Regions from separate parts of the Homo sapiens genome. Here regions 1, 3 and 4 are each linked to region 2. Evidence: fine-mapped expression QTL. A gene starts in region 2. Each other region holds a variant in brackets. All regions are shown on one strand. Distances are between the middles of the regions. Region 1 overlaps HFM1 (helicase for meiosis 1). Region 2 holds the start of HFM1 (helicase for meiosis 1). Region 3 overlaps HFM1 (helicase for meiosis 1). Region 4 overlaps HFM1 (helicase for meiosis 1).

The links. PIP is the estimated chance that this variant, and not a neighbour inherited with it, causes the effect. A credible set is the group of variants that fine-mapping cannot tell apart.
Region 1: its variant is the best candidate, but not a certain one, in a credible set for the expression of HFM1 in subcutaneous fat (FUSION, PIP 0.64).
Region 3: its variant is the best candidate, but not a certain one, in a credible set for the expression of HFM1 in prefrontal cortex (GTEx, PIP 0.84).
Region 4: its variant is the best candidate, but not a certain one, in a credible set for the expression of HFM1 in subcutaneous fat (FUSION, PIP 0.62).

What each region holds. Positions count from the first base shown.
Region 1 is chr1:91,369,384-91,377,275 of GRCh38, reverse strand. HFM1 (helicase for meiosis 1) reads left to right here. Exons shown (of 39, transcript NM_001017975.6): 12 at 1,549-1,749; 13 at 1,830-1,918. Among named protein-coding and RNA genes, the nearest start is that of HFM1, 32 kb to the left of the region's middle. The variant A/TTA (reference allele first, on the strand shown) is at 4,128.
Region 2 is chr1:91,400,839-91,408,730 of GRCh38, reverse strand. It overlaps HFM1 (helicase for meiosis 1), which reads left to right and starts at 3,894. Exons shown (of 39, transcript NM_001017975.6): 1 at 3,894-3,933; 2 at 7,622-7,719. The coding sequence starts at 7,649. RefSeq lists a silencer at 3,920-4,299.
Region 3 is chr1:91,351,907-91,359,798 of GRCh38, reverse strand. It overlaps HFM1 (helicase for meiosis 1), which reads left to right. Exons shown (of 39, transcript NM_001017975.6): 14 at 6,500-6,543; 15 at 6,647-6,748; 16 at 7,148-7,293. Among named protein-coding and RNA genes, the nearest start is that of HFM1, 49 kb to the left of the region's middle. The variant T/C (reference allele first, on the strand shown) is at 3,853.
Region 4 is chr1:91,301,397-91,309,288 of GRCh38, reverse strand. The region is part of intron 30 of HFM1 (helicase for meiosis 1); the gene reads left to right. Among named protein-coding and RNA genes, the nearest start is that of HFM1, 99 kb to the left of the region's middle. The variant AAT/T (reference allele first, on the strand shown) is at 4,654.

The DNA of each region.
Region 1 (7,892 bases), 31 kb after region 2:
GTTCTTGAAATGACAACTTGTTTTGTTCATATTTTTCAAGAATAATATAGAAAAATTTAAAGTTTATTACAACAACAAAACTAAATCCTAGCGTTTATCTTTACACATGTAGGAAGCATAATGTACATACTTTTTTTTGTAAGCATGTAGGAATCATAATGTACATACTCTTTTTTTGACCTGCATTTCACCTTTAAACATTTTTATATCATTAAATATTCTTCAATACTATTTTTGTGGTTTTATTGTAATTTATTTATCAAACACTATAACAATGGAAGATTAAGTTATTTCCAATTTTTGCTATTGTAAACAGTGAAATTAATGTATCTGAAACATCCATGATTATTTCCTTAGGATGAACTTCTAGAATGAATTAACTGAATCAAAGGATATATAAAACTCTAAAGAAGTGCTTCTTTCAATAAATGTTATATTCATTTACACTTCTACCAGAGGCTATTTTCCTGTATCCTAACACTGGATAGTATAATAATGGAATTATTATTGCTATTATTATTTTTAAATATTTATAGGATTTATTGTTGAGTGTAGTATCTCATTTAAAAATTTTTTACTTCTTTGATTTCTACTAAGGTAAAATTTTAAATATATTTATCAACTACTTTGAGTTCTTTTTTTAAAACTTGCCAGGTTATGTCATTTGCCTTTTTTTCACATTGGAATACTAAATTTTTCTTAACTTATTTGTAAGCAATTATTATGTACTAGTACTGTCTAATTCTTGAAACTTTTCCCCTTTGTGATAAACACTACTTGTGTGAATGCTGTTTCTGTCTCTTTTGTCAGATCTTCTTCCTCCGTTTTTCCCTAAATTAAGGTTTTTATTCTTGGCCTTCTGCTCCCCTCTGTCTGTAAATTCTTATGTGATCTTATCCCTACTCATGATAACCTTGAGATTATTTTAATGTTTTCTACCTGTCAAAACAACAGTCAATTTCATAGCAGAGCATGGAGCCTGATTATTAACTGGGCTATGTAAAGATAAGGATTGCTTACCACAGTTCCAGAATCTAGCTTGAGTCTGAAGTTTGCTTTTGGCACTGGCATCTCTCAAGTGTTTGTTGTTTGCTTAAAAACTTGTCAACCCTTGCCAACCTAAACCAACTATTAATTTGCTGCTATTTATCTAATATTTAGGACAACACAAAAGAGATGTCAGCCATTTTGAGGCGTAGTTTTCAAAAATAGCAAAGAAGTTAAAATAATAGTGAGAAATTTGGCCTCTATGACAAAATTGATAATTTTTCTTTGGATTCTTATGAAGGAAAATAAAACAAAATAATAATAATTAATTGGAAGTTTACCATGGTGAAAAGTGGGTATAATCTTGAAATACTACTATTGGTAGTGTTGACCACTATATCAACAGAATAATATTAATGGAATATGTAATATTGAAAAAGACAGCATACTTGATTAAATACTTTTATAGCTTGACCTTAAAGTGCTTTGTAATTGGGTTGTTTTTAGCAATAAAACTTTACTAGAAGAAAATTTTAATGCACATATTTTTGTGTTTCAAAGATTGCAGAATGGCTTTCAGATGGTGAAAGACCAGCTGTGTGTCTGAAAATGGATGAGAGCCATAGACCAGTGAAACTTCAGAAAGTGGTCCTTGGATTTCCCTGCAGTAGTAACCAAACTGAGTTTAAGTTTGATTTAACCCTCAACTACAAAATTGCCAGTGTTATACAAATGTACTCTGATCAGAAACCCACACTTGTGGTATGGATTGTTGATAGCTTATTTTTTAGTATATTCAGTTTTTAACATGATTAATACAAACGTTATGAATTTATTTTCAGTTTTGTGCAACAAGGAAGGGTGTGCAACAGGCTGCTTCTGTTCTTGTGAAAGATGCTAAATTTATTATGACTGTGGAACAGAAACAGAGGTATAGTATTTTATTTTTTCATGGAAGTAGAAGGACTTTTAGGGCTCATCTAGATGACATGAGAAAATTAGGCTTGTCCCATAACCTTGGGGTAAACCTCAGTGTCCTCATCTATAAAATAAGGATAATGATAATTTTGAGGATTAAGTGAGATAGTGAATCTTCGTACAGGGGTGATCCAGATTTCTTGAATGATAAAGATTATCCATACTACTATCTATTTTTTTTAACCTAATTTCAATCCAGCATCTTTTATAGTCTTTCACTAAAGCTGATCTTGCGAATTAATCTTTAAGGACTCTCTATCATATTTGGCCACTTCCACCTTACTTAAACACTCTGGACTCTGTGCTTCCATGATCATTTCTACTGATTTTCTTCCTCCTTTGCAGGCTGTTCGTTCTCAGTCCCCTTTTCACCTCTTCTACCCAACTCTTAAATGTTGACATTCGAGTGAGTATACCTGAGGTTCATTCTTTCTAATGCCACACTCTTAGGTGTTTGTAAGTACTCACATGAAGTTCAGATAATATTTATGCATGTCTATGAATTCCCACATTTATGCCTTCGGCCCAGACTTCCTTACTGAGCTCCAGGCCTATAGTCCATCTGTGTAACTGAATCCAGTTGTATGTCTACCAACAGTTATCTCAAACTCACTATGTACCAAATAGAACCTTGGTTCTTGCTCTCAGACCAGCTCCTTCTCCAGTGTTCCCCATCTTAATTATACATTATCTCCTTAGTTACTCATAGCAGAAAACTATGATTGATATCTTCTTCACCTTATACCCCACAATCAATTACGAAGTCCTGTTTATTCTTACTTCTAAATATATCTCAAATATGTCATTTTGTCTCCATCAACACTGCCACTTCCCTAATTCAAGTCACTAGTAATCTCTTGCCTAGGCTGTATCCTTTTCTTTAATCACTACACACACACTCTCTTATCCAGCTTTATTCTCTACATAGCATAGATTGTGTAAGATTGCAAATCTAAATGGCAGTTTCCTGCCTAAAACCCTTTAATAGATTCTTATTGTTCTGGGGATTAAATGCTAAATCCTTAGTGTAGCCTGCAGTAGCCCATGTAATGTGATGCCTAGCCAATTCTCCAGACTTTTCATGACCATTCTCCCCCTTTAATCATCACGGTCAAGCTGTATTAGCCTCTGTGTTCTGTGAATACACCAAACTGTTACTCTGTACAGCATTGTCTTGCATGGTGCTTGCTTTTACTGGAATGGTTTTCACCTAACTCCTATTTATCCTTCATGTCTAAACTTTAATATCAGTTTTCCATAGCCATCAGTTTCCCTGTATTTACTTTTATAAGCAACCTGTACTTGATTTCATAGCACTTACTATAATTATAATATCCTTTTGTTTAATAGTTATTTTAATATCTTTTCTATTAATTAGATTATCAACTTCTTGAGGAAAGGGGGACTCATGTTCATCCTGCTTACCACTCAATCTTAGCAGGTGTATTAGGTCATTCTTGCATTGATATAAAGAAATTTCTGAGCCTGGGTAATTTATAAAGAAGGGAGGTTTAATTGGCTCACAGTTTTGCAGGCTGTACAAGAAACATGGCACCACATCTGCTCGGCTTCTGGTGAGGCCTTGGGCTGCTTACAGTCATGGCAGAAGGCAAAGGATGAGTTGGTGTATCACATGGTGAGAGCAGGAGTAGGGGTCGGGGGGTACCATACACTTTTAAGCAACTAGATGTCACAAAAACTCACTCACTATTGTAAGAATAGCACCAAGCCATGAGGATCTGCCCCCATGATCCATTCACCTCCTACCAGGCCTCACCTTCAATACTGGAGATTACAATTTAGCATGAGATTTAAATGGACAGCATCCAAATTATAGCAGAAGGTCTCAGCAGAGTGCTAGCACATGATTACTATGTAATGAACATTAACTTATTATTATTGTTAATAACTTCTGGAAATCAGTAAATATGTTTAGTGGTAGACCTCAGACTAAAATTGGACATGTGGATATGAGCAGATACTTATTTTTTCTGCCTAATTTTGTATGGTGGGGGAATATACTTCTCTCCGCTTTGGGTCAGATCAGCTTTCCAATTACCAGTCTGTTCCTTTGCCACCACCTCTGGTTGCTTGTCAACCAAAGATATGTAGCAAGCCTAGAGGAGCCAATTTAGTCTTCTTTACATTCTTTGTTTTTTTTT[A/TTA]ATCCACTAAAAAGGTAGACTATAAAGATAGTCTATTAAAGAATTACAAACATAGCCACTTATTCACCCTCTAGATACTATTTTGACACTTTTCCTTCCATTTAAAGGATTTAACTTGATCTTCTTAGTTACTACCATATGAAAAAAAATCTCTAGGGTGTGAAGCATGTAGAGTAGTTCTTTTATAATACACGTCAACAAAGCAAGATTAAGCAATAAGAAACAGTAGAGAGCAAGACAGAATGAGAAAAACCAACAAAGAGCTCACAGTCAAAAAGTAGATGAAGTCTGAGAGGTAGAAAGAAAGGGAGAAAGTGAAATTATTGCTAATAAGAATACCATCAAAAAATGATTAATAATTTTCATACCAACTGCATGTAGTTTTATAGCATTCTTATGAATTTTCTTTTTTTTATTATACTTTAAGTTTTAGGGTACATGTGCACAACGTGCAGTTTTGTTACATATGTATACATGTGGTGTTGGTGTGCTGCACCCATTAACTCATCATTTAACATTAGGGATATCTCCTAATGCTATCCCTCCCCATTCACCCCACCCACAACAGGCCCCAGTGTGTGATGTTCCCCTTCCTGTGTCCATGTGTTCTCATTGTTCAATTCCCACCTATGAATGAGAACATGTGGTGTTTGGTTTTTTGTCCTTGCGATAGTTTGCTGCGAATGATAGTTTCCAGGTTCATCCATGTCCCTACAAAGGACATAACTCATCATTTTTTATGGCTGCATAGTATTCCATGGTGTACATGTGCCACATTTTCTTAATCCAGTCTATCATTGTTGGACATTTGGGTTGGTTCCAAGTCTTTGCTATTGTGAATAGTGCCTCAATAAACACACGTGCACATGTGCCTTTATAGCAGCATGATTTGTAATCCTTTGGGTATATACCCAGTAATGGGATGGCTGGATCAAATGGTATTTCTAGTTGTAGATCCCCGAGGAATCGCCACAATGACTTCCACAATGGTTGAACTAGTTTACAGTCCCACCAACAGTGTAAAAGTGTTCCTATTTCTCCACATCCTCTCCAGCACCTGTTGTTTCCTGACTTTTTAATGATCACCATTCTAACTGGTGTGAGATGGTATCTCATTGTGGTTTTGATTTTCATTTCTCTGATGGCCAGTGATGATGAGCATTTTTTCATGTGTCTGTTGGCTGCATAAATGTCTTCTTTTGAGAAGTGTCTGTTCATATCCTTCACCCACTTTTTGTTGGGGTTGTTTGTTTTTTTCTTGTAAATTTGTTTGAGTTCATTGTAGATTCTGGATATTAGCCCTTTGTCAGATGAGTAGATGGCAAAAATTTTCTCCCATTCTGTAGGCTGCCTATTCACTCTGATGGTAGTTTCTTTTGCTGTACAGAAGCTCTTTAATTAGATCCCATTTGTCAAGTTTGGCTTTTGTTGCCATTGCTTTTAATGTTTTAGACATGAAGTCCTTGCCCATGCCTATGTCCTGAATGGTATTGCCTAGGTTTTCTTCTAGGGTTTTTATGGTTTTAGGTCTAACATTTAAGTCTTTAATGCATCTTGAATTAATTTTTGTATAAGGTGTAAGGAAGGGATCCAGTTTCAGCTTTCTATATATGGCTAGCCAGTTTTCCCAGCACCATTTATTAAATAGGGAATCCTTTCCCCATTTCTTGTTTTTCTCAGGTTTGTCAAAGATCAGATGGTTGTAGATATGTGGCATTATTTCTGAGGGCTCTGTTCTGTTCCATTGGTCTATATCTCTGTTTTGGTACCAGTATCATGCTGTTTTGGTTACTGTAGCCTTGTAGTATAGTTTGAAGTCAGGTAGTGTGATGCCTCCAGCTTTGTTCTTTTGGCATAGAATTGACTTGGCAATGCGGGCTCTTTTTCGGTTCCATGTGAACTTTAAAGTAGTTTTTTCCAATTCTGTGAAGAAAGTCATTTGTAGCTTGATGGGGATGGCATTGAATCTATAAATTACCTTGGGCAGTATGGCCATTTTCAGGATATTGATTCTTCCTACCCATGAGCATGGAATGTTCTTCCATTTGTTTGTATCCTCTTTTATTTCCTTGAGCAGTGGTTTGTAGTTCTCCTTGAAGAGGTCCTTCACATCCCTTGTAAGTTGGATTCCTAAGTATTTTATTCTCTTTGAAGCAATTGTGAATGGGAGTTCACTCATGATTTGGCTCTCTGTTTGTCTGTTATTGGTGTATAAGAATGCTTGTGATTTTTGTACATTGATTTTGTATCCTGAGACTTTGCTGAAGTTATCTATCAGCTTAAGGAGATTTTGCGCTGGGAACATGGGGTTTTCTAAATATACAATCATGTCTTCTGCAAACAGGGACAATTTGACTTCCTCTTTTCCTAATTGAATACCCTTTATTTCTTTCTCCTGCCTGATTGCCCTGGCCAGAACTTCCAACACTATGTTGAATAGGAGTGGTGAGAGAGGGCATCCCTATCTTGTGCCAGTTTTCAAAGGGAATGCTTCCAGTTTTTGCCCATTCAGTATGATATTGGCTGTGGGTTTGTCATAGATAGCTCTTATTATTTTGAGATACATCCAATCAATACCTAATTTATTGAGAGTTTTTAGCATGAAGGGTTGTTGAATTTTGTCAAAGGCCTTTTCTGCATCTATTGAGATAATCATGTGGTTTTTGTCTTTGGTTCTGTTTATATGCTGGATTACGTGTATTGATTTTCGTGTGTTGAACCAGGCTTGCATCCCAGGGATGAAGCCCACTTGATCATGGTGGACAAGCTTTTTGATGTGCTGCTGGATTTGGTTTGCCAGTATTTTATTGAGGATTTTTGCATCGATGTTCATCAGGGATATTGGTCTAAAATTCTCTTTTTTTGTTGTGTCTCTGCCAGGCTTTGGTATCAGGATGATGCTGGCCTCATAAAATGCGTTAGGGAGGATTCCCTCTTTTTCTATTGATTGGAATAGTTTCAGAAGGAATGGTAACAACTCCTCCTTGTACCTCTGGTAGAATTCGGCTGTGAATCCATCTGGTCCTGGACTTTTTTTGGTTGGTAAGCTATTAATTATTGCCTCAATTTTAGAGCCTGTTATTGGTCTATTCAGAGATTCAACTTCTCCTGGGTTAGTCTTGGGAGGGTGTATGTGTTGAGGAATTTATCCATTTCTTCTAGATTTTCTAGTTTATTTGCGTAGAGGTGTTTATAGTATTCTCTGATGGTAGTTTGTATTTCTGTGGGATCGGTGGCTATATCCCCTTTATCATTTTTTATTGCGTCTATTTGATTCTTCTCTCTTTTCTTCTTTATTAGTCTTGCTAGTGGTTTATCAATTTTGTTGATCTTCTCAAAAAACCAGTTCCTGGATTCATTGATTTTTGGAAGGGTTTTTTGTGTCTCTATTTCCTTCAGTTCTGCTCTGATCTTAGTTATTTCTTGCCTTCTGCTAGCTTTTGAATGTGTTTGCTCTTGCTTCCCTAGTTCTTTTAATTGTGATGTTAGGGTGTCAATTTTTATCTTTCCTGCTTTCTCTTGTGGGCATTTAGTGCTATAAATTTCCCTCTACACACTGTTTTGAATGTGTCCCAGAGATTGTTACATTGTGTCTTTGTTCTCATTGGTTTCAAAGAACATCTTTATTTCTGCCTTCATTTCATTATGTACCCAGTAGTCATTCAGGTTGTTCAGTTTCCATGTAGTTGAGCGGTTTTGAGTGAGTTTCTTAATCCTGAGTTCTAGTGTGATTGCACTGTGGTCTGAGAGACAGTTTGTTATAAT
Region 2 (7,892 bases):
AAGAAAGAAAGAAAAAGAAAGAAAGAAAGAAAGAAAGAAAGAAAGAAAGAAAGAAAGAAAGAAAGAAGGAAAGAAGGAAGGAAGGAAAGAAAGAAGGAAAAGAAAGAGAAAGAAAGAGGGAAAGAAAGGAAGGAAGGGGAAAAAAGAAGGGAGGGAGGGAGGGAAGGAAGGAAGGGGAGGAAGGGAGGAAGAGAGAAAAGAGAAAGAAAGAAAGAAAAGAGAAACAAAGAAAAAGAAAGAAAGAACAGAAAGATTTTTTTTTTTTGGTTTGTGCTTAATTCAGTCTTCCTTTTGTTATTTAAGTATCTACTGAATTGGCCCTAACTCCCTAAACTTTTCTTTCCTCCTGAGAATCCCATCATATCAAACTACCTTTATTTCCTTTTTTTCTGTTTTTTTCTCAGAAATTAATTTTGTAATTCTCAGATTCTTCCCAAATGATCTCTTCACTGTTTCTTGTCCAAATCTGACAATAAAAAACACAACACATTTCTGGCTGTCATCTGCAGAAAAATAGTCTTGAAACCTCAACATTTCTTGGTTCCTGCTTCTCTAGAGCCATCAACACTAATTTTTCTTTTTTCTTTCTTGCTTTTTTAGATACAGGATCTTGCTCTATTGCCCAGGTTGGAGTGCAGTAGTGGGATCACAGCTCACTGCAGCCTGGAATTCCTTGGTTCAAGCCATTCTCCTGCCTCAGCCTGCCAAGCAGCTAGGACTACAGGCACACACCACCACACCTGGTTAGTTTTTAAAATTTTGGTAGAGATGAAGTCTCGCTGTGTTGCCCAGCCTGAGACTAATTTTTCAATATCAATTTCTACTGACTAATCAGGGTGTAAAAGATGTGGATGTTACAAAGTGAAGAAAATTTTGGTTATGTTGGATACATCAGCTAGAACTCATGGCATTGGCTGTAATAGCATTACCATATGTCCCAGCAATTCCACTCCTAGGTACATATCCAAAGGAATTGAAAGCAGGGACTTGAACGGAGATATTTACACACGAATGTTCATAGAAGCATTATTCACAATAGCCAAAAGGTGGAAATGTGGAAACAACTCAAATGTCCCTTAGCCAGGATTACAAATGGATAAACAAAATGTGGTATATAAATACAATAGAATATTATTGAGCCTTAAAAAGGAGTAAAATTCTGATCCATGCTACAACATGGATGAACATTGAAAACATTATGCTAAGTGAATAATCCAGAAATAGAAGAACAAATATTGTATGATCCCACTTATATGAAGTACTTAGGATAGGTAAACTCATAGAAATAGAAAGTAGAATAGAGGTTACCAGGAATTAGGGAAAGGGGAAAAGAAGGAGTTCCTGTTTAATGGGCAGAAATTTCTTTTTTTTTTTCTTATACTTTAAGTTTTGGGGTACATGTGCACAACGTGCAGGTTTGTTACATAGATATACATGTGCCATGTCGGTTTGCTGCACCCATCAACTCGTCATTTACATTAAGTATTTCTCCCAATGCTATCCTTCCCCCAGCCCCTCACCCCCCAACGGGCCCCAGTGTGTGAAGTTCCCCTCCCTGAATGGGCACAAATTTCTTGTTGGGGATAATGAAAAAGTTTTGGGTATGGATAAGAGTGATGGTTATACAACACTATGAGTGTATTTAATGTCCCTGAATTATACACTTATATATGGTTAAAATTATAAATATTACGCATGTTTTACCACAATGAAAGAAAGAAAGCGCGCCTTCTAGTGGGAGCTGGGTGCAGAGAGAGCTCTGTATTCTTGGCTGCAGCTGTCTAGAATGGAGCCTGTCTTGCTAAGCTGGAACTTGGGAGTCTTGGATAAAATACCACAGAGCCTTGCCTTTCTTACCAAATTTTTGTATCTCTTTCTTGAAAAGATGTTTCTTCTTTTGCTGTTTGCCCTTAGGATCATTTCCAGAGGGTCTGAGTCATTTTTCTAGAATTTTCACCAGTTTCACTGAGAAGTGAGGTAGCAAAGCTCTTTATGCAGTCATGCCAGAAGTTGACCGGGAAGACTATATTTCAAATGTTAGTTATGTTATTCAATTTGGAGGATTGCTTATGACATTGTTGCACTGGTTGTAAAATTAAATCTTTAGGATTAAAATGTTTTCTTGAGAAATGTGGCAACATTACTAAAAACCATGGTAATCCCTCCCCCCAAAATGGGATTTTTAGTAACTTTATCACTGTCCTGAGGCTTCCTTTTAAAAACTGCAGCTTTGACATTTTTATTACATTATTTTAAGAGAAAGTAAGGCTCTATAGATTCCACATGCATTCTTGAATAAATGAGTGAGTGAATGAATGAATGTTTTTGTTTATGAACATGGTGGCCATTTGCTACTGTGTGCTTTGACAGTAAGACTCCCCTGTACCTGCCTGTTGCTGAATTCTACAATTCTATCACTCAAACCCTATCTTAGTTCAAGCTGCTATAACAAATTACCATAGGCTGGGTGGCTTAAACAACAAACATTTGTCACAATTTTGGTGCCTGAGAAGTCCAAGATCACAGTGCAGGCAGATCCGGTATTTGGCGAGGGCCTCCTTCCTGGCTTGCAGATACCGTCCTCCTGTATCCTCACATGGTAGGAAAAGAGCGAGCTAACTCTCTGGCCTCTTAAAAGGGCACAATCCTACTCATGAAGGCTCTACCCTTTTGAGTTAATTACCTCACAAAAGTCCCACGTTCAAATATCATCACATCGGGGGTTAGAATTCAATGTATGAATTTCAACACATTGAGGGGTTCACTATAACAAATGCACTGTTTCGTTATTTTCCTCTATGCAGTCTATGGAAAGTAACTTTCCTCTCCAGTATTTTTGAGAGGAATGATAATTCAACCTTTCTATTAAGAATAGTTTATGCAGTCAAAATGTTATTTTCTCCAAGAGACAAAGACTTGTTATTTTATCAGTATCCAAATAACTGGCTCACCCAATTACTGGAATAATTTTACATTTCAGAGAAGGTGAAAGAAATTAATATTCATGAGCATTTACTGTGTGGTAGGACTACTGCAAATATTATTTTATTTAACCCTTGCAGCAGTATCTAGGAGTTAGAGCTTATGAGTATCACTGAGGATGCAGAATTAAGACTTAAAGGTTGGGTCTTTTCCAAGGTCATATAGCTAATGAACAGTAGAACTGCAAGAAAAAAGAGAACAGGAATAGGGCAGTCAGACAGCAGTAGGTTGGCCCTAGATGTCACAGGTGGGGGTTTCCAAAGGAAAGATAAATGTCTCTGTAAGAAAAGCATCATTGATTCGTTGCTATTTTATCATCTACAAAACATTCCCTGCCAAATCTTCAGAGGACAATTCTAAAGAAACTTAAAAGGATAATTTATAGTTTGTTCATGTTTACAGCCTAAGAACACATTATTGCCCTGTTTTTATAAATTCATGTTGGCTAAACACATTTAAATATCATTGTGTTTTAGAATATTTATTTCTGAAATTTAACTTTATTTCTGAATCAAGTTCCCCAGTAATACCGACCTCATGAGTGCCACTGTGATATTTTATAAATAATATAGGTAAAACACTTTTTAGGTACGAAGAGACCGGAAGTCCCAGAGCTGAGGCCTGGCTAACTTTGATGAGAAAGGCAGGTTGGGGTATGTTTGTGGAGTGGTGGTTGTGGGGGTAGAGAAGCAGGTTAGCTTAGGGAAAGGGTACCATTTAGTAGACCCTTAGAACCCAGGATTAGGAGCTGTATTTAAAGAGAATAGACACAGTAAACTGCAAGAGATATATTCAAAACCAGTTATAAACTTTCGGAGAAAAAAAGGTAGGAAGGGAGAGGTTGGGGGCTTGGGCGATCCATTGCTTGGAGCTCGGCTTAGCCAGGCTTGGCGGTCCTCAGAGGGGCTGATAAATCGGCGCTCGACTGGCCTAGGAGCTGTCCGCAGGGAGGTGAGGAGAGGGGCCCGGACGCCCGCGGGGAAGGTGGGGACGGGGGCCCGACGCCCGCGGGGAAGTGGGGACCCAGCCGAGCCGTCCGGGCAGCGGTCGATCTCTAGAGCCGTCTGCCGGGCAGGCAGCGGACGGGCGCGGCGAGTTGTTGGTCACCAGGCGTCTCCAGGCCGCCGGCCCGCGCCAGCGCCTCAGCCGCATTTCCAGTCAGAAAGCGGTGAGGCCTGCGGCGCGCTCGGGCGCAGGGCGGGCCCAGCTCCCCGCGAGGTGGGACCGGCTGGGCGTCCGGCCCGCCCCTAAAGTCGGCTGATTGGTGTTCGGTTCCTGTGTCTTGTGTTCCGGTGTGTGGCGCCCCCTGAGCGAGCGCTGGGGGGGACGTACCCATCTGTCTGAGCCGCGGGTTTCACAGCGGTGGGAGGAAACGGGACCCGGGGGGTGGAGTGACGCGCCCCAGCGCCCCGTTCTTGTGCCACTCTCGGGGCCCTAAGGCCTCTGCCTTGGATTTAGGATATTCTCCTTAGGAAATCCACAGAGCTGTTATTTTGCTTTAGGTGCTGATTCGGTCCCCAGCCGGACCCTTCCAGCCAGCCCTGTTGGTGCCTGGGGAGAGGGGGTGAGATCTGGGGCTCCGACAATTGTATGGTCCTTTCCCAGGCCGAGCCTCGGAGTAATTTGTTCCCGTTGATTTTTCCTTCTTTGTCAGATTCTCTGCAGTTATTTGTGACGGTCGGTTATTCCCGTAAATGTTGGTCCCTACTTCTTCCTTAACTCACAAAAATTTCTAGCAAATCAATAATTTTTATCTGAGTTTCTGTACTTTTAAAATAAGGAGTATGTTTCTGAGTAAAAATTGTAAGAAGTAATAGGCCTGCAATTTTATACAATAAGTTTATACAATAATTGTATACAATAATTTTATACAATAAGTAAAGATTACAGAAGACAAAATGGTGAATTGTCATTAATATAACTAAAGATTAATTGTATCTAGTTGTATTAATATTTAACTAGAGATTGTCATTAATATAACTAGAGAAGGTCGGCACCGCAAATTATGTAGACTCAAAAATAGCTTAAGTATTTTAACAGTGATTATAGCAGAGCAGACACTTAAAACTACCTGGGATGATATTGTTTATTGTGTTTGGCAATCTAATTTTGTGCCACGTGCTGAAACTAAAACTTTAATAATAAATAATAGGAACTTAAAAAATCTGAATCTAAACCTAGAACTTTAATTAATTTAAAATAGCATCCCCTCACATCACAAACTCATACTGAACTGTAGCAAGGTCCCTTTTAGGACCTGTGTTTCTTTTTTAAAAAAAGATTTACATAATGAAAGTGCCAAATTCATCATCTTTTAGAACCTTCATGATTTTATTTACATAAATCCTGAACTAGAAAAAAATTTCACATTTTTTAACTGAACGTTGAAGATTGGGGCTCAAATTTTAAGTTTCTAAATTAACAGAAAATTATTTTTATTTGACACTATTTTTATAAACTGGTTCTTGCTAATGCATTTATTCCACAATGCATTCTTATGGACCATTTACTGTGTGCCAGGCACTATTCTGGGTTATTGGAACACATTAATGAGCAAAAAGTCCCTGCTTGCTCTAAAGGGAGAAACATAATAAACAACTAAGCATATACTATAATGTTAGTTATCAGTTCATGCTATGAAGAAAAATAATGCGGAATGAGAGGATGCAGTTTTAGATAAGGGGTGTTTTTTCACAGGAGTATATAAGAACTAAAATATGTACATGATATTTTTATTCTGAACCCAAACAAGTTATATTCTTGTATGCTAGAACTAGAAATCAAAAATTCTTTTGAAAATATTTGCTGTTTGTATAGGAGGTTTTTGTCAGTTTATGCAACGCTTTTCTTCCCAAATGTTTTAAATTTGTAGTTTTGTTGTCTATTTGTAGTTGCTTTAGGAAGAAAGTATTCAAGTGTATAAATGTTAGCCTTAAGATTTTTGACTTAAATTCTGAGGTAGCAAAGCCATATGAAACTGGTCTGGTGAGGTTTATTTTAGGAAAAGTTTCTTTTGTTTGAACATAGTTTTCCTAAAACTAGAAAGGGAACATTTTATTTGTTACTTTTTGGGCAATATAAAAACATGATTAACATTTTCATTTATACTTTTTCAGATAATTGTTTTCAAGTTCTGAAATTGTTTACTTAAAGCTGTTAAAGACTTCGCATATTTCTGAATGACTCCCTCTACCTCCTGCCCTATTATCCTAGGCTTCTATTTTTCGTATAGTCAAATTGTTTTAGACATTTATAGAACCACACTAGTTTGTTTCATTTTTACTACTTGTTTTTGTTGGTAACTGATTAATAGATAGAGAAAAATGAAGAGGGCAATTATATTAAACAGATGGAAGGGGGAAGAACCCAATAACGAAAACAGTGAAAAACCCCACAATATTCTATATCAGTAAGAACAGCCCTGAAGTATATATACAGGTTTAGTTCTCATACAGTAGCATTTGTCAAGTGTTGTATGTGGAAACATTCTCCCTTCCCCATATCACTCCCACTTGTATCTCATCCCCACATCAAGGAGGATTCAAAATTGGAGAGACATAATCTGACTTGGTAATGCGTATTTCTCCACTAGATGGCATTAATAGAATTTCTTTGATTGTAGTTTCTATCTTGAGGACAAATTTACAATGTATTAACTAAAACAGAAGAAACAGAAATGTGATTTATGTTTTACAGTTTGTTCGTCTGATTTTATGGTTTGTCATATAGAATGTTCTATGATGTTTAAGAATTTAGAAAAAAATAGGATATGCAGGGAAAAATAATTCTAATGGGAGCAATGTATGTATCTAGAGACTAGTTTTTTTTTTTAATCACATTTGCATCTTTGTTCAGCCCCAGATTTTTGTTATGTTCAAAGGTGGCCAATGCTGAATGTTTTTATCCTTTATGTTTAGATAATATCTCTGAGTGCAAAAATTATCTTTTAAAAAAGAATGTAAACGTGTGTAGTATATGCATTAACTCATATAAATAAATATGCATATGTATGTTAAACTTGTAATTTTTTTATTTTGAAAAAGTTCAAACCTATGAAAAAATATTATAATGAACCCCATGTACCTATTACATAGCTTTAGCTTTGATCAACTCATTGTCAATATTATTTCAATACTCCTTCATCTCTCCCCTTTATTTTGAAGCAAATCCCTGCATATGTACATAGTATATTGTTAGAGGTGCACACATTCACAATAAAATGTGCTGTCCTAACTTGAAAATAATGGTGTGAACAAAGTATTAAGAGCCCAAGAAGACTGATTAATTCTGCCTTGAGGAAGAAGACAAATTCAGAAAAGCCTTTGAAGAAGAAATGACATTTGACCTATAACTTGAAGGATGGTTAGGAATTTGCCAGTTGGAGAATGGCAGAAAACACATTCCAAGCATTGGAGCACTATGAAGAGAAGGGAGCAAGTGTGAATCCATGAATGAATGGAAAACAGAGAATAATGTATGTGAATATTGAGGTGCTTTGAAGGAAGTTGCAGACGATGAAGCTGGAAGGATAGTCTGTGGTTATATTTTACAGGAGACTGTGGAAAATTAGTGATTATACAGAAATATTTTTTTACATCTTTATAAATAAAATATAAACTACTTTTTCCATATTTTGTAGATTTATGACAAAGTCCAGTTTTCAACAATGCTGAAATCAAATGATTGCCTGTTTTCTTTGGAAAATTTGTTTTTTGAAAAACCAGATGAAGTTGAAAAGTAAGTCTCCCTTAAAGATTGATAGCATAGTATATTACTTTAGGGTTTTTTGAATTTGGGTGAGTTTTAGCTTTCTCTCTGGTAAATATACAAATAAAAATGAGGAATCAACAGAACGATATTTCAGTTACATATTTGGTAAACATGGAATTCTCTTACCAGTAGTATAGGGG
Region 3 (7,892 bases), 49 kb after region 2:
ATGTTCGTGTGGAGTATCTTCCTGGGGTTCTCTGCATTTCCTGAATTTGAATGCTGGGCTGTCTTGCTAGGTTGGGGAAGTTCTCCTGGAAGTTCTCTTGAAGTATGTTTTCCAGTGTGGTTTTGTTCTCCCTGTTTCTTTCAGGTACCAGTCAGTTGTAAGTTTGGTTTCTTTACTTAATCCCATATTTCTTGGAGGTTTTGTTCATTCCTTTTCATTCTTCTTCTTCCTTTTTTTTTTTTTTTGTATTCTTGTCTGCCTGTCTTATTTCAGAAAGATAATCTTCTAGCTCAGAGATTCTTTCCTCCATTTGGTCTATTCTGTTATTGATACTTGCGATTGCATTGTGAAGTTCTCGTGTTGTGTTTCTCACCTCCATCAGATCAGTTATGTTCCTCTCTAAACTGGCTGTTCTGGCTATCAGCTCCTGTACTGTTTTACCATGGTTCTTACCTTTTTTTGCATTAGGTTATAACATGCTCCTTTAGCTCAGTGAAGTTTGTTATTACCCACCTTCTGTAGCCTACTTCTGTCGATTCAGCCATCTCAGCCTCCAGCCCAGTTCTTAGCTGGAGAAATGTTACAGTCATTAGGAGAAGAGACACTATGGCTTTTTCAGTTTTCAGTGTTTTTACGTTGACTCTTTCTCATCTTTGTGGGCTTATCTACCTTTGATCTTTGATGTTGCTGACCTTTGAATGAGGTTTTTATGGGATCTTTTTTGTTGTTGGTGGTGGTGTTTTCTGTTTGTTTTGCTTTTAACAGGCCACTCTACTGTAGAGCTGCCGCAGTTTGCTGGGGATCTGCTCCAAACCCTAGTTGCCTCAGTTTCTCCCGTACCTGGAAATATCACCAGTGAAGACTGTGAAACAGCAAAGATGACAGCCAGCTACTTCCTCTAGAAGCTCCATCCCCAGGGAGTACTGACCTGTTGCCAGTCTGCATGTACCTTTAGGAGGTGGCTGGAAACCCCAGTTGGGATGTCTCACCCAGTCAGTGGAACAGGATCAGGGACCCCCCCAAAGAAACAGTCTGACTGTTTTTTTGGTAGAGCAGGTGTGCTGCATTGCCAAGGCCAATATCAAGGTGCTTTGCCCTATGTTCTCTTCTGGGAGTTTTATGATTTCAGGTCTTACATTTAGATCTTTTGTCAATTTTTGAGTTGATTTTTGTGTATGGTATAAGGGTGCAATTTTATTCTTTTGGATATGGAAATTGTTTTTCCAGCCTCATTTATAGAAGAAACTATTGTTTCCCCATTTTTTTTGGTGCCCTAATGGAAAATTAGTTGACTGTGTATGTTTGGACTTATTTCTGGGCTCTCTGTTCTGTTCCATTGGTCTGTGTTTCTGTTTTTATGCAAGTACTATATTGTTTTGGTTAGTCCAGCTTTGTAGTATAATTTTAAATCAGAAAGTGTGTAGCTCCAACTTTCTTTTCCTTCTCAGTTTTGCTGTCACTATCCAGGGTTTATTGTGGTTCCATACTAATTTTATGAAAAAAAATTTTTTTTTTGAGATGGAGTCTTGCTCTGTTGCCCAGGCTGGAGTGCAGTGGCGCGATCTCGGCTCACTGCAAGGTCCGCCTCCCAGGTTCACACCATTTGTATTTTTAGTAGAGATGGGGTTTCACCATGTTAGCCAGGATAGTCTTGATCTCCTGACCTTGTGATCCACCCATCTCGGCATCCCAAAGTTAATTTTATGATTTTTTCTTCTATTTCTGTGAAGGATGCCATTGGAATTTTGATAGGGATTGTATTGAATCTGTACTTCTTTGGGTAGTATGGACATTTTAACAATATTAATTCTTTCAATCCATCAACACAGGATATCTTTCCATTTATTTTTGTCTTGGATTTCTGTCACCATTGTTTGATAGCTTTCAGTGTACAGATCTTTTACCTCCTTAATTAAACTTATTCCTAAGCATTTTATTTTTTTATGCTGTCATAACTGGGATTGTTTTCTAGATTTCTTTTTCAGTTAAATTATTATTTTTGTTTAAAAATGCTACTAATCTCTGTATATGGATTTTGAATCCTGCAACTTTACTGAATTATTAGTTCTAACAGTTTTTTAATGAATCTTTGAGGTTTTTTTACATGTAAGATAATGTTGTCTGCAAATAAAGATAGTTTTACTTCTTCCTTTCAAATTTGAATTCCTTTTATTTTTTTCTTATCTGATTGCTCTTGGTAGTACTTCCAGTACTGTGTTGAATAGAAGCAGTGAGAGTGGGCATCCCTGCCTTGTACTGTATCTTGGTGGAAAAGCTTTCAGTTGTTCCCCATTGATTATGATGTTGGCTGTGGGCTTTTCATAAATGGCCTTTGTTACATTAGTTGAGAAGTTTTCCTTATATGCCTGCGTGTTAAGAGATTTTATCAAGAAAGGATGTTGAACTTGCTGTCAAATGCTTTTTCTGCACCAATTGAGATGGTCTTGTGTTTTTTATCTTTCATTCTGTTAATGTGATATATCACAGTGGTTGATTGGCATATATTAAACCAGCCTTGCTTGCCAGGAATAAATCCACTTGGCCATGGTGTATAATCCTTTTTGATGTGTTGTTGAATTCAGTTTGCATATATTTTATTGAGGATTTTTGCATCAATATTCATCAGAGATACTAGCCTATAGTTTTCTTGTAGTGTCTTTATGTGGCCTAGGTATCAACGTGATAGTAGCCTCACAAAATATGTTTGGAAGTATTCCCTGTAGCTGTATTTTTTGGAATAGTTTATGAAGTATTGGTGGTAATTCTTCTTTGAATGTTTGGTAGAATTCAGTTGTGATGCTGTCTGGTTCTGGGCTTTTCCTTGTTGGAAGATTCTTCATTACTACTTCAATCTCATTATGTGTTATTGGTCTGTTTAAGCTTTCTATTTCTTCCTGATTCAAACTTAGCAGGTTGTATTTTTCTAGGAGTTTGTCCATTTCCTGTAGGTTATCCAATTTGTTAGTATTAATATATAATTGTTCATAATAGCCCCTTATGATCTCTTTGATTTCTGAGGCATCTGTTGGTGATTTCTCCAGTTTCATTTTTTATTTTATTTGTTTCTTCTTTTTTTTTCCTTAGTCTAGCTAGATATTTGTTTATTTTATTTTTTCAAAGAACCAAGTCTTGGTTTTATTGATCATTTTCTATGTTTTTTTGGTGGATCTCTATTTGATTTATTTCTGTTCTGATCTTTATTATTTCCTTTCTTCTGCTAACTTTGCATTTAGTTTGTTCTTTTGCTAGCTCCTGTAGGTATAATGTTAGGCTGTCTATTTAGTATCTTCTTTTTTTAATATAGGCACTTATTGCATAAAATTTCCTCTTGAGTTCAAGACCAGCCTGACCAACATGGGGAAACCATGTCTCTACTAAAAATACAAAATTAGCCAGGCGTGGTGGTACATGCCTGTAATCCCAGCTACTCAGGAGGCTGAGGCAGGAGAATCGCTTGAACCTGGGAGGCATAGGTTGCAGTGAGCCGAGATCATGCCATTGCACTCCAGCCTAGGCAACAAGAGTGAAACTCTGTCTCAAAAAAAAAAAAAAAATTCCTCTTAGAACCACTTTTGCTGCATCTCATAGGTTTTGGTGTGTTGTCTTTCCATTGTTACTTGTCTCAAGATATTTTTTAATTTCCCTTTTGGTTTCTTTGACCATTGATTGTTTAGGAGCATGTTGTTTAGTTTCCACATACTTGTGATTTTTTTCAAGATTTTTCCTGTTATTGATTTCTAGTTTCATATTGTTGTGGTCAGAAATGATACTACATATGATTTCAATCGTCTTGAATTTAGATTAATTAAAAATAGTTAAATCTAGTTTTGTGGCTTAATGTATGATCTGTCC[T/C]GTAGAATGTTTCGTATGCTCTAGAGAAGCGTATACATTCTGCTGCTATTGAATGCAAAGTTCTATATTTGTCTGTTAGGTCCATTTGACTCAAAGTACAATTCAAGTCCAGTATTTCTTTGTTAACTTTCGGTCTGGTTAATCTATCATTATTGAAAGTGGGATATTGAAGACCCCTCCTATTATTGTATTGTTGTCTATTTCTCTCTTCATGTCCTTTAATAATGTTTTATATATATGTTATGCTTCAGTGTTGGGTGCTTATATATTTACAATTCTTATGTGCTCTTGATGAATTGACCCCTTTGTCGTTAAATTATGACCTTCTTTGCCTCTTGTAACAGTTTTTGACTTAAAGTCATTTTAACTGATGTAAGAATAGCCACCCTGCTCTCTTTTGGTTACTATTTATGTAGAATATTTTCTTTTACCCCTTAACTTTCAGCCGGTGTCCTTATAGCTAAGATGGATCTCTGGTAGGCAGCATGTAGTTGGATCTTGGTTTTTTTTTTTTCTTCTATCAATTTAGACACTATATGTCTTGATTGGAGAATTTAATTCATTTGCCTTCAGGGTTATTATTGATAGATAAGGACTTACTCCTGCCATTTTAATTGTTTTCTGGTTGCTTGGTAGATCAGTTGTTCCTTTCTTCCTCTTGTTGTATAAGTTTGTGATTTGTTGTTTTTCTGTAGCGCTAAGCTTTGATTCCTTTCTCTTTCTCATCTGTATCTTCTGTAGCTTCTTGCTTTGCAGTTACCACAAGGCTTACGTAAAATATCTTAGAGTTATAATAGACTATTTTAAACTGAACTTCAGTCACATACAACTACTCTAGATTTTTGCCCTCCCCCCACAATTTATGTTTGTTGACACAGTTTACATCTTTTTATATTCAGTATTCCTTAACAACTCATTGTAGCTGTATTTTTGACTATTTTGATTTTTCACCTTCATAATAGAGATTTGAAAGATTTGCACACCACCATTACAGTGGTGGCACATTCTGAATTTGACTGTGTATTTACCTCTACCAGTGTGTTTTATGCTTTCATATGTTTTCATGATACTAATTATCATTCTTTTGTATCTGGTAGAAGAACTGCTTTAATCATTTCTTATAAGGCAGGTCTAGTGGTGAATTTCTTCAGCTTTTATTTATCTGGCTGAGACTTTATTTCTCCTCATTTCTGATGAACAGCTTTGCTTTGTATAGTATTGTTTACTGGCAATATTGTCTTCTTTCAGGACTTTGAATGTATCATCTCATGCTCTCCTGGCCTGCAAGGTTTCTGCTGAGAAACACTGATAGTCTAATGGAGATTCCCCTATAAATCACTTGACACTTTTCTCTTGCTACTTTTAAAATTCTCTCTTTGTCTTTGACTTTCCACATTTTGGTTATAATGTGCCTCAGTGAGGACCTTTTTGGGTTTGAACGTGTTTGGTGATTTTGAGATTCATGGAACTGGATGTCCATGTCTCTCCCAAGACTTGGGAAGTTTTCAGCAATTATTTTATTAAATAAACTTTCTATGCCTTTTCCTCATTCTTCTCCTTCTGGAACCTCCATAATATGAATACTTGTTTGCTTAATGGTGTCCCATAAGTCCTATAGGCTTTGTTCACTCTTTTTTGTTCTTTTCTCTTTCTTTTTTTTCCCTCTGACTAGGCTATTTCAGAAACCTAACTTCATTTCACAGATTCTTTCTTCTGCTTGTTTTGGTTTGCTGTTGAAGCTCTCTATTTTTGATTTCATTCATTTAATTCTTTAGCTCCAAGATTTCTGTTTGGTTCTTTTTGAATAACTTTCTTGTGCAGATAATGAATTGTTTTCCTGATTTCATTGACCTGTCTATCTGTATTCTCTTGTATCTCAGTGAGTTTTCTTAGGATCATTACTTTGAACTCCTTTTCAGACAGTTTACAAATTTCTGTTTTTTGGAATCAGTTACTGGAGAATTATTGCGTTCCTTTGTTGGTGGTGTATTTCCTGGTTTTTTGGTTGGTTTTTTTTTTTTTTCATGTTTCCTGTGTCCCTCTATTGATGTCTGCACAACTAGTGGAATAATCACCTCTTTCAAATTTATAGAGAGGCACTTTCCTTTAGTCATTCTGTTCAAAATGTAGTTAGTTGTTTATTCATTGTTTTGCTCTTTTTTGTGGGGAAGATGAGCATTAGGCATCTCTAGTTGACCATCTTGCTTCCTCCTAACCTAGTTTTTTTAAATGCCATGTCTCAGAGCACTGGAAACACTATGGTTTATTTCCATGTTTTTTTTTTTTTTTTTTTTGCTTATTTACTAGTAATATAGTAGTTTTAGAAATGGTTACTTCTTATAATTTTTTTTAGGCAAATTATGAGAGTAGACTTTTATACTGACTTGTTAATCACCAATTATGTTGTTTTCTTGGGGAAAGTGAGTTTTCCAAATTCTTGGTTTAAAAGTGAGCTTTAATATTGTAGCTCATAAGTTTAGGGACTTTTGAATATGAAAGTTGGATATTTTCTACTTCTTAAAATAGTTTTCAGATAATGATATTGTGAAAATTTTTTGATATCTCTAAGTTTTAAAATAATAAACTGTTTCAGAGTTCTCTAATGTTACTGGGAGTAACTCAATAATTTTATGGTATTTTTAAATAGGTTACAGAAGTATGCATATTCCGTAAGAGATTCAAAACTGAGAGGTAGGTTTAGAGATAATTTTTGAATAGCATTTTCACATATAGATGAAAGGTGCCAATTATTGATGAAATATTAATAGTAACAGCTGATATATTTCTATTACAGATATCTTAAAAGATGGTGCTGCTTATCATCATGCTGGTATGGAGCTGTCAGATAGAAAAGTAGTTGAGGGAGCTTTTACTGTTGGAGATTTACCAGTTCTTTGTAAGTAAAACATATTTCTCGTGGATACTATAAAATATTTTGGAAAATTATTTTTAAGAGGAAAAAAGGAAAAAGCGCAAGTGTTCTGCTTGTTTCTGCTTTTCTTCTGAGAATATAAAATTAAGTGGTTACCTATGCATGTAGATGCTACAGTAAATTCTTTGGTAGTGTTTAGTTCTTTATCATATTGTTGAACATGGTGTAATTTGAAAAACAAGAATTTAATAGGTTTTTGGATTTAAGGTGTGTTACTATTTTAGATTGTAATGCTCTTTTTTCTTTTCTAAATTTCTTATGTATGAGTTTTTATTACATTTATAAGAATGTCTTTTATTAAAAAATGTTCCTGAAGCAACAAAGTTAAATGGCTCAAAATTACTATGTCTTAATCTGATGCAGTTACTACCAGTACTTTAGCTATGGGAGTAAATTTGCCTGCTCACCTAGTAGTTATAAAATCTACAATGCATTATGCTGGAGGACTGTTTGAAGAGTACAGTGAAACAGATATTCTACAGATGATTGGTAGAGCTGGTCGACCTCAAGTAAGTGACAATAACTTTGCTTTTTATACTTAAAAACATGATAAAAACAAAAAAATTGTGTATTTTTTGATTAGCATGTCATAATTGTATCAGGCTTAAAAGTAATATAGCAGAGAAAATTTACCTTTAGTGGAGGAATAAAAGTAAGACAAGCCTCACCAACTGGGACATACTTCCTTCATTCTGTCTAAGCTTGTCTTGGCTGATGAGGGGATGGGTTTATGAATGGGTATGCTGTTAAAGGTCTTTTTGATTTTGACTGTTTTTTTTTTTTTTTAAATTCTGAATGGGGGTACTCTTAGCATTTTGGATGGAACAGGTTTTCCTTGCTTAGGGCTGTCACATTACAGAACATGAAACATCCCTAGGTCCTAGCACTAAATGCTAATTGTGTTCCCAGGAATTATGACAAAAGTCCAAATACATTTCAAAACATACCCTACTCTGACAAATACATGAATAAGTCATTTTTATAGGTATTATGGGAACATCAGGAAGATTATATTTTCAAAACATTTGTAAATATTATGTTGTACAGTTCTACAATTTCATAGAGTAAATCAGATTATATGTAAATTATACCAAATCTTACAACTTTT
Region 4 (7,892 bases), 99 kb after region 2:
AGCTCTTTCTTATTCAGTTGGTCCTGTTTTCACCCTTTTGACCCCATAAGGGGAGCAGTTAACAGACACTGGGGAATTTGAGAGCAGCAGCATGATTAGACATGCTCTCTGAATAGTATTGGCAATTATGATAAATAGTAACTGCAGTGAGTAGTGACAGGAAGAACGCATTTAGAACTATTCTGTGAGCTCATGAGCCTTCATCTTCTTCCTTTTGAAGAACACAAAAGAGCTTCCATTTCTGGGTAGGATATAGTTTTGTGGTAGGCCAGTGCTTCCACAGCTACAACTATGAAAACCTTCATACCTTATAAAATTATAATTTTTAGGGCATCAGAGATTTGTGGAAGCACTAAGGACTAAAGGAACTAAATTCTTAATAAAAAGGCTAGGTAGACCATGCCCTGTAAAGGGGTTTACATGATCAGCCACTCACCATGTTTGCCTGACAGAGGGAAAGGGAAACTTCTTCTGGTGAAATGTAATCTGGAAACCACAGACACAGTGTCTGTCATATGATAAAAAAATTGTGAGGCCCACAAAGAGATAAGACCATATGACTGATAATCAACTGTGTCAAGAAACAAGCCAGACATGGTGACACACACTGGTAGTCCTAGATATTCAGGAGGCTAAGGCAGGAGGATTTCTTGAGCCCAGGAGTTTGAGGCTGTAGTGCACTATGATCATGTCTGTGAATTTACCACTGCACTCCAGCCTGGACCACATAGCAAGACCACATCTCTTTAAAAAAAGTATAAAATAATTATGAATATTTTAAAGAAAATATAGAAAAAATAGGTAAATGCATGAAAAGATGGAAAGTTTTACCAGATAATTAAAATCTATAAAGAGATTTAAATGGACTTTCTAGAATTAAAAATGCGATATCTGAAATGAAGAGCTAGTTGGGTAGGCTTAACATTAGATTCAATATAACCAAATATAGGATTTGTGGGCTTTGAGACATATCAGTAGAAAATATCTAAATTGAAGCCCAGAGATAAGAGAATGGAAAGAACACAAAGGAATATAATACTCAAAAAAAGGTCTAACATATGCATAATTAAAGTCCCAGAAGCAGAGTAGAGAGAGAATGGGACAAAATTAACATTCAAAGAGACAATGGCAGAGTCCATTTCAAAATAATAAAAGACACCAACCAACAGATTTAGAATTTTGGTAAACCCCAAACAGAGGCAAATACAGGGAAAACCACACCTGGACATATTGTAGCAAAACTGCTGAAAATGTTAAAATTAGACACATCATTTATGCATTACCTTCAAAATAACAACAGTGAAACTGACAGCTAACTTCTCAACAATAATGATGGAAAACAGAAGACAATGGAATGTCATATTCAAAATGCTACCAACCTAGGTTTCTGCCCAGTGGAAAATATCCTTCATGATGAAAGTGAAAAAAGAAAGAAGAGAAAGAAGAGAAAGAAAGAGGAAGAAAGAGAAAGAAAATAACTAAATGACTTTATCACTACTAGTATATTTATCAGCCTGAATTAAAATGAATACTAAGGCCAGGCTTAGTGGCTCATGCCTATAATCCCAGCACTTTGGGAGGCCAAGATGGGCAGATCGCTTGAGCCCAGGAGTTCAAGACCAGCCTAGGCAATGTGGTGAAACCCTGTCTCTACAAAAAGTTAAAAAAAATTAGTGAGTGTGGTGATGTGCACCAGTGGTCCCAGCTACTTGGGAGGCTGAGGTGGGAGGATCATTTGACCCTGGGAAGTTGAGGCTGCAGTGAGCTGAGATCACACTACTGCACTCCAGCCTGGGTAACAGAGCGAGACCCTGTCTCAAAATAAAAAATAAAATAAAATAAATACTAAAGGGATTTCCTTAGAGGAAAATGATCACAGATGAAAACATGGACATGCTGGGGGGAATGAAGAAGAGTAGAAAGGATAACTATATGACTAAATATAAGTAGACTATGTAAAACAGTAATTGAAATGACTTACAGAGTTTAAAATATATGTGGAAATAAAATGCAAAGCAAAAAAATACAAGCTTGCATCTCAAGAGTATACCATATCAAACATAATAATGTAACAAGAGAAAAACAGAAATCAGCGATACATAGGATGTAAATATACAACAGAGAAAAATCAACAAAGCTGAGATTTGGTTCTTAGAAAAGATAAATAAAATTAAGAACCCTCTATGAATGAAGACTGATCAAGAGAAAGAAAGAAAACACAAGTAACAATATCAAGAATGAAGAAGAGGATATTACATTGTATATCAAAAAGTTACTGAAGATATTCAAAAGCACAAAAACAAGACATTAACAATTTTATAATGATAAATTTGACATAGTTTGGGTTAAAATGAGAATATTTATTGAGAAGCAAAGCTTACCAAAACTGACAGAAGAAAATAAAATCTGAGTAGTCTGATACTAGTAATGAAATTGAAGCAATTGTTAGTAAAAATTTTTCCACAAAGAAAACTTGAGGCATGGATGACTTCACTGTTAATTTTTCTTAATTAAGAAGAAATAATATCAAACTTACCTAAACTTTTCCAGAGAATAGAAAAAAAGAGAATATTTTCTAATGTTTTGTTTTTTTAATGAGGCCAGTGTGTCAAAACCTGACAAGGACATTAAAAAGAAAGGGAAATTATTTAGCAACATATCTCATGAACATAGATCCAAAAGTCTTTAATGAAATATTCACAAGCTGAATTTGGCCATATTTTTTAAAAGCACAATTAAGTATGGTTTATTGCATGTATGCAGGAGAGGCTTACCATTCAAAAGTAGATCAATATAATTCACTATGTTAACAGAGAAAAAGGAGAAAATGATTTGATCCTCTTGATAGGTGTCAAAAAAGTTTGACAAAATTCAGTACTCATTTATGATTTAAAAAAACTCTTAGCAAACTAGAAATAGAAGGGAACTTCTTTTGTTTTGTTTTGTTTTTGTTTTTGAGACAGAGTTTCACCCTTGTTGCCCAGGCTAGAGTGCAATGGTGCAATCTCGGCTCACCATAATCTCCACCTCCCAGGTTCAAGCTATTCTCCTGTCTCAGCCTCCCGAGTGCTGGGATTACAGGCATGCACCACCACGCCCAGCTAATTTTGTATTTTTAGTAGAGATGGGATTTCTCCGTGTTGGTCAGGCTGGTCTTGAACTCCCAACCTCAGGTAATCTGCCTGCCTTGGCCTCCCAAAGTGCTGGGATTACAGGGTGAGCCACCACGCCTGGCCTGGAACTTCTTAAATATAAAGAATATCTACAAAAACTATAGCAAATGTCATACTCGATAGTAAAATATTAAACACTTTCCTATTGAGTTGGAGAATGTTACAAGAATGCTCTGTGTTATTATTTCTATTCGACATTGTGCTGGAAGTCTTAGTAATATAATAATACTTTAAAAAAGCAAAAAGGGGGCTGGGTGCAGTGGCTCATACCTATAATCCCAGAACTTTGGGAGGCCGAGGTAGGAGGATCACTTGAGTCCAGGAGTTCAAGACAAGCCTGGGCAACAGTGTGAAACTCCATCTTTACAAAAATAGAAAAAAGTAGCCAGGTGTGGTGGTGCTTGCCTGTAGACCCAGCTCCTCTGGAGGCTGAAATGGGAAGATCACTTGAGTCCAGGTGTTCGAAGTTACAGTGAGCTATGATTACACCACTCCACTCCAGCCTGGGCAACAGAGTGAGACCTTGTCTCAAAAAAAAGAAAAAAAAAGAAATAAATAAATTGTCATTATTTCTAAGCAACATGATTATTTATAGAGAAAATCCAAAAGACTCTATAGACATGCTGTTGGAATTAATATGTTTAGAAATATCACTGAATGCAGTCAATATAAAAAACAATTGTACAATAGCATCAAAAAGAATAAAATACTTAGGAATAAATTGAACAAAAAAGTGTAAGAAGTGAACACTGAAAACTACAAAACACCATTGAAATAAATTAAAGAAGTTCTAAATAAATTGAAAAATATTTTATGTTCGTGGATTGAAAGTCAATATTGTTAAGATGGCAGCACTTCTCATATTAATTCATAAATTCAACAAAGTCTGTATCAAAATCCTAGCTGTAGTTTTTGCAGAAATTCACAGGCTGATCCTAAAATTCACGTGGAAATACAAGGGACCCAGAATAGCTAAGCCAACCTTGAAAAGAAAAAGAAGGAAGGTAGAGGACTCACAATTCTTGGTTTCAAAACTTGTTACAAAGCTGCAGTGATTAAGACAAGGTGGTGCTGTCATAATAATAGACATAAAGATCAATGGAATACAACTGAGAGTGTAGAAATAAACCTTTACCTCTCTGCCAGTTTATTTTTGACAAGGATGCCAAAACAATTTGATGGTAAAAGAATTTGAAAATAATTTTTCAAGTAATAGGGCTGGGCAACTGCATAGACACATGCAAAAGGATGAATTTGGACTCCTACCTCATACCATATACAAAAATTAACTCAAAATGAATCAAAGACCTAAAGGTAAAACTTAAAACTATAAAACTCGCCAGGTGCAGTGGCTAACACCAGTAATCCCAGCACTTTGGGAGGCTGAGGTGGGTGGATCACCTGAGGTCAAGAGTTCAAGACCAGCTTGGCCAACATAGTGAAACTCTGTCTCTACTAAAAATACAAAAAAAAAAAAAAA[AAT/T]TAGCCGGCTGTGGTGATGGGCCCCTGTAATCCCAGCTACTCAGGAGGGTGAGGCAAGAGAATCGCTTGAACCCAGGAGGCGGAGGTTGCAGTGAGCCAAGATCGCTCCATTGCACTCCAGCCTGGGCAACAAGAGCGAAACTCTGTCTCAAAAACAAACAAACAAACAAAAACCTATAAAACTCTTAAAAGAAAACATAGGTGTATATCTTCATTCATTACCTTGTACAAGGCAACAGTTTCTTAGGTATGACATATAAAGCTCAAGTAACCAAAGAAAAAATAGATGAATTGGACTTAAGATGAAAACTTTTGTGCTTCAGAGGACACTATTCAGAAAGTGAAAAGACAACCCACGGAATGGGAGAAAATACTTGCAAATCATATATATCTGATAACTAACTTGTATTGAGTATATATAAAGAAATCTTACACTTCAACAGTAAAAAGACAAATAGCCCAATTAAAACTAGTCAAGGGGCCGGGCACAGTGGCTCACATCTGTAATCCCAACACTTTGGGAGGCCGAGGCGGGTAGATCACTTGAGGTCAGGAGTTCAAGACCACCCTGGCCAATATGGTGAAACCCCATCTCTACTAAAAATACAAAAATTAGCCAGGCGTGTTGGTGCACGCCTGTAATCCCACCTACTCAGGATTGAGTGGAAGGTGAGGTGGAAGAATTGCTTGAACTCAGGAGGTAGAGGTTGCAGTGAGCCAAGATCATGCCACTGCACTCCAACCTGGGTGACAGAGTGAGACTTTGTCTCAAAAATAAAATAAAAATAAAACTAGTCAAGGGATCTGCATAGACATTTTCCAAAGAAGTGATACAAATGGTCAACACACATATGAAAAGATGCTCTACATTGTTAGTCAATGCAGAAATGCAAACCAAAACCACAGTAAGATACCACTTCCCACTCAGTAGGGTGGCTTTAGTCAAAATGATGGACAATAACATGTGTTGATAAGGATATGGAGAAACTGGAACCCTCATACACTGCTAGTGGGAATGTAAAATTGTGCACTGCTTTGAAAAACAGTTGGTATTTCCTCAAGAAATTTAACATAGAATTAACATATGATACAGCAATTGTACTCCTAGGTGTATATCCAAAAGAATTGAAAACATATTCATACAAAAACTTAGACATGAATGTATATAGCTGCATTATTTATAATAGCCCAAACTGGAAACAACCCAAATATCTATCAACTGATGAATAGATAAGCAAAATGTGGTATATCCATACAATGGAATATTATTCAGCCAAAAAGAAAAACTACTGATGCATGCTACAGCACGGATGAGCCTTGAAAACATGCTAGATAGAAGCTAGTCACAGAAGACCAGATATTGTATGGTTCAATTTATATGAAGTGTCTAGAACAGGTAAATCTATAGAGACATAAAGTAGATTAGTGGTTGTCAGGGGTTGAGGGCAGGAATAAATGAGGAATGACTAATAATAGTTATATGGTGGGTTTTTTGTATGTATGGTGATGACAGTGTTCTGGAATTATATGATGACTGTTGCACAACCTTGGGAATATACTAAAAACCCACTGAATTGTACAGTTTAAAAATGTGAATGGTATGGTATGAATTATAATTTAATTAAGAAATTTAAAAGTCCATTGTATTCCTGTATACCAGCAAAAAGGATAAATTATAATTTTATTTTATTTTATTTTAATTTTAAATTATACTTTTAGGGTACATGTGCACAACGTGCGGGTTTGTTACATATGTATACATGTGCCATGTTGGTGTGCTGCACCCATTAACTCATCATTTAACATTAGGTATATCTCCTAATGCTATCCCTTCCCCCTCCCCCCCACCCCACAACAGGCCCCAGAGTGTGATGTTCCACTTCCTGTGTCTATGTGTTCTCATTGTTCAATTCCACCTATGAGTAAGAACATGCAGTGTTTGGTTTTTTGTCCTTGCGATAGTTTGCTGAGAATGATGGTTTCCAGCGTCATCCATGTCCCTACAAAGGACATGAACTCATCATTTTTTATAGCTGCATAGTATTCCCTGGTGTATATGTGCCACATTGTCTTAATCCAGTCTATCATTGTTGGACATTTGGGTTGGTTCCAAGTCTTTGCTATTGTGAATAGGGCCACAATAAACATACGTGTGCATGTGTCTTTATAGCAGCATGTTTTATAATCCTTTGGATATATACCCAATAATGGGATTGTTGGGTCAAATGGTATTTCTAGTTCTAGATCCCTGAGGAATCGCCACACTGACTTCCACAATGGTTGAACTAGTTTACAGTCCCACCAACAGCGTAAAAGTGTTCCTATTTCTCCACATCCTCTCCAGCACCTGTTGTTTCCTGACTTTTTAATGATCACCATTCTAACTGGTGTGAGATGGTATCTCATTGTGGTTTTGATTTGCATTTCTCTGATGGCCAATCATGATGAGCATTTTCTCATGTGTCTTTTGGCTGCATAAATGTCTTCTTTTGAGAAGTGTCTGTTCATATCCTTCACGAACCACTTTTTGATGGGGTTGTTTGATATTTTCTTGTAAATTTGTTTGAGTTCATTGTAGATTCTGGATATTAGCCCTTTGTCAGATGAGTAGATTGCAAAAATTTTCTCCCATTCTGTAGGCTGCCTATTCACTCTGATGGTAGTTTCTTTTGCTGTACAGAAGCTCTTTAATTAGATCCCATTTGTCAAGTTTGGCTTTTGTTGCCATTGCTTTTAATGTTTTAGACATGAAGTCCTTGCCCATGCCTATGTCCTGAATGGTATTGCCTAGGTTTTCTTCTAGGGTTTTTATGGTTTTAGGTCTAACATTTAAGTCTTTAATGCATCTTGAATTAATTTTTGTATAAGGTGTAAGGAAGGGATCCAGTTTCAGCTTTCTATATATGGCTAGCCAGTTTTCCCAGCACCATTTATTAAATAGGGAATCCTTTCCCCATTTCTTGTTTTTCTCAGGTTTGTCAAAGATCAGATGGTTGTAGATATGTGGCATTATTTCTGAGGGCTCTGTTCTGTTCCATTGGTCTATATCTCTGTTTTGGTACCAGTATCATGCTGTTTTGGTTACTGTAGCCTTGTAGTATAGTTTGAAGTCAGGTAGTGTGATGCCTCCAGCTTTGTTCTTTTGGCATAGAATTGACTTGGCAATGCGGGCTCTTTTTCGGTTCCATGTGAACTTTAAAGTAGTTTTTTCCAATTCTGTGAAGAAAGTCATTTGTA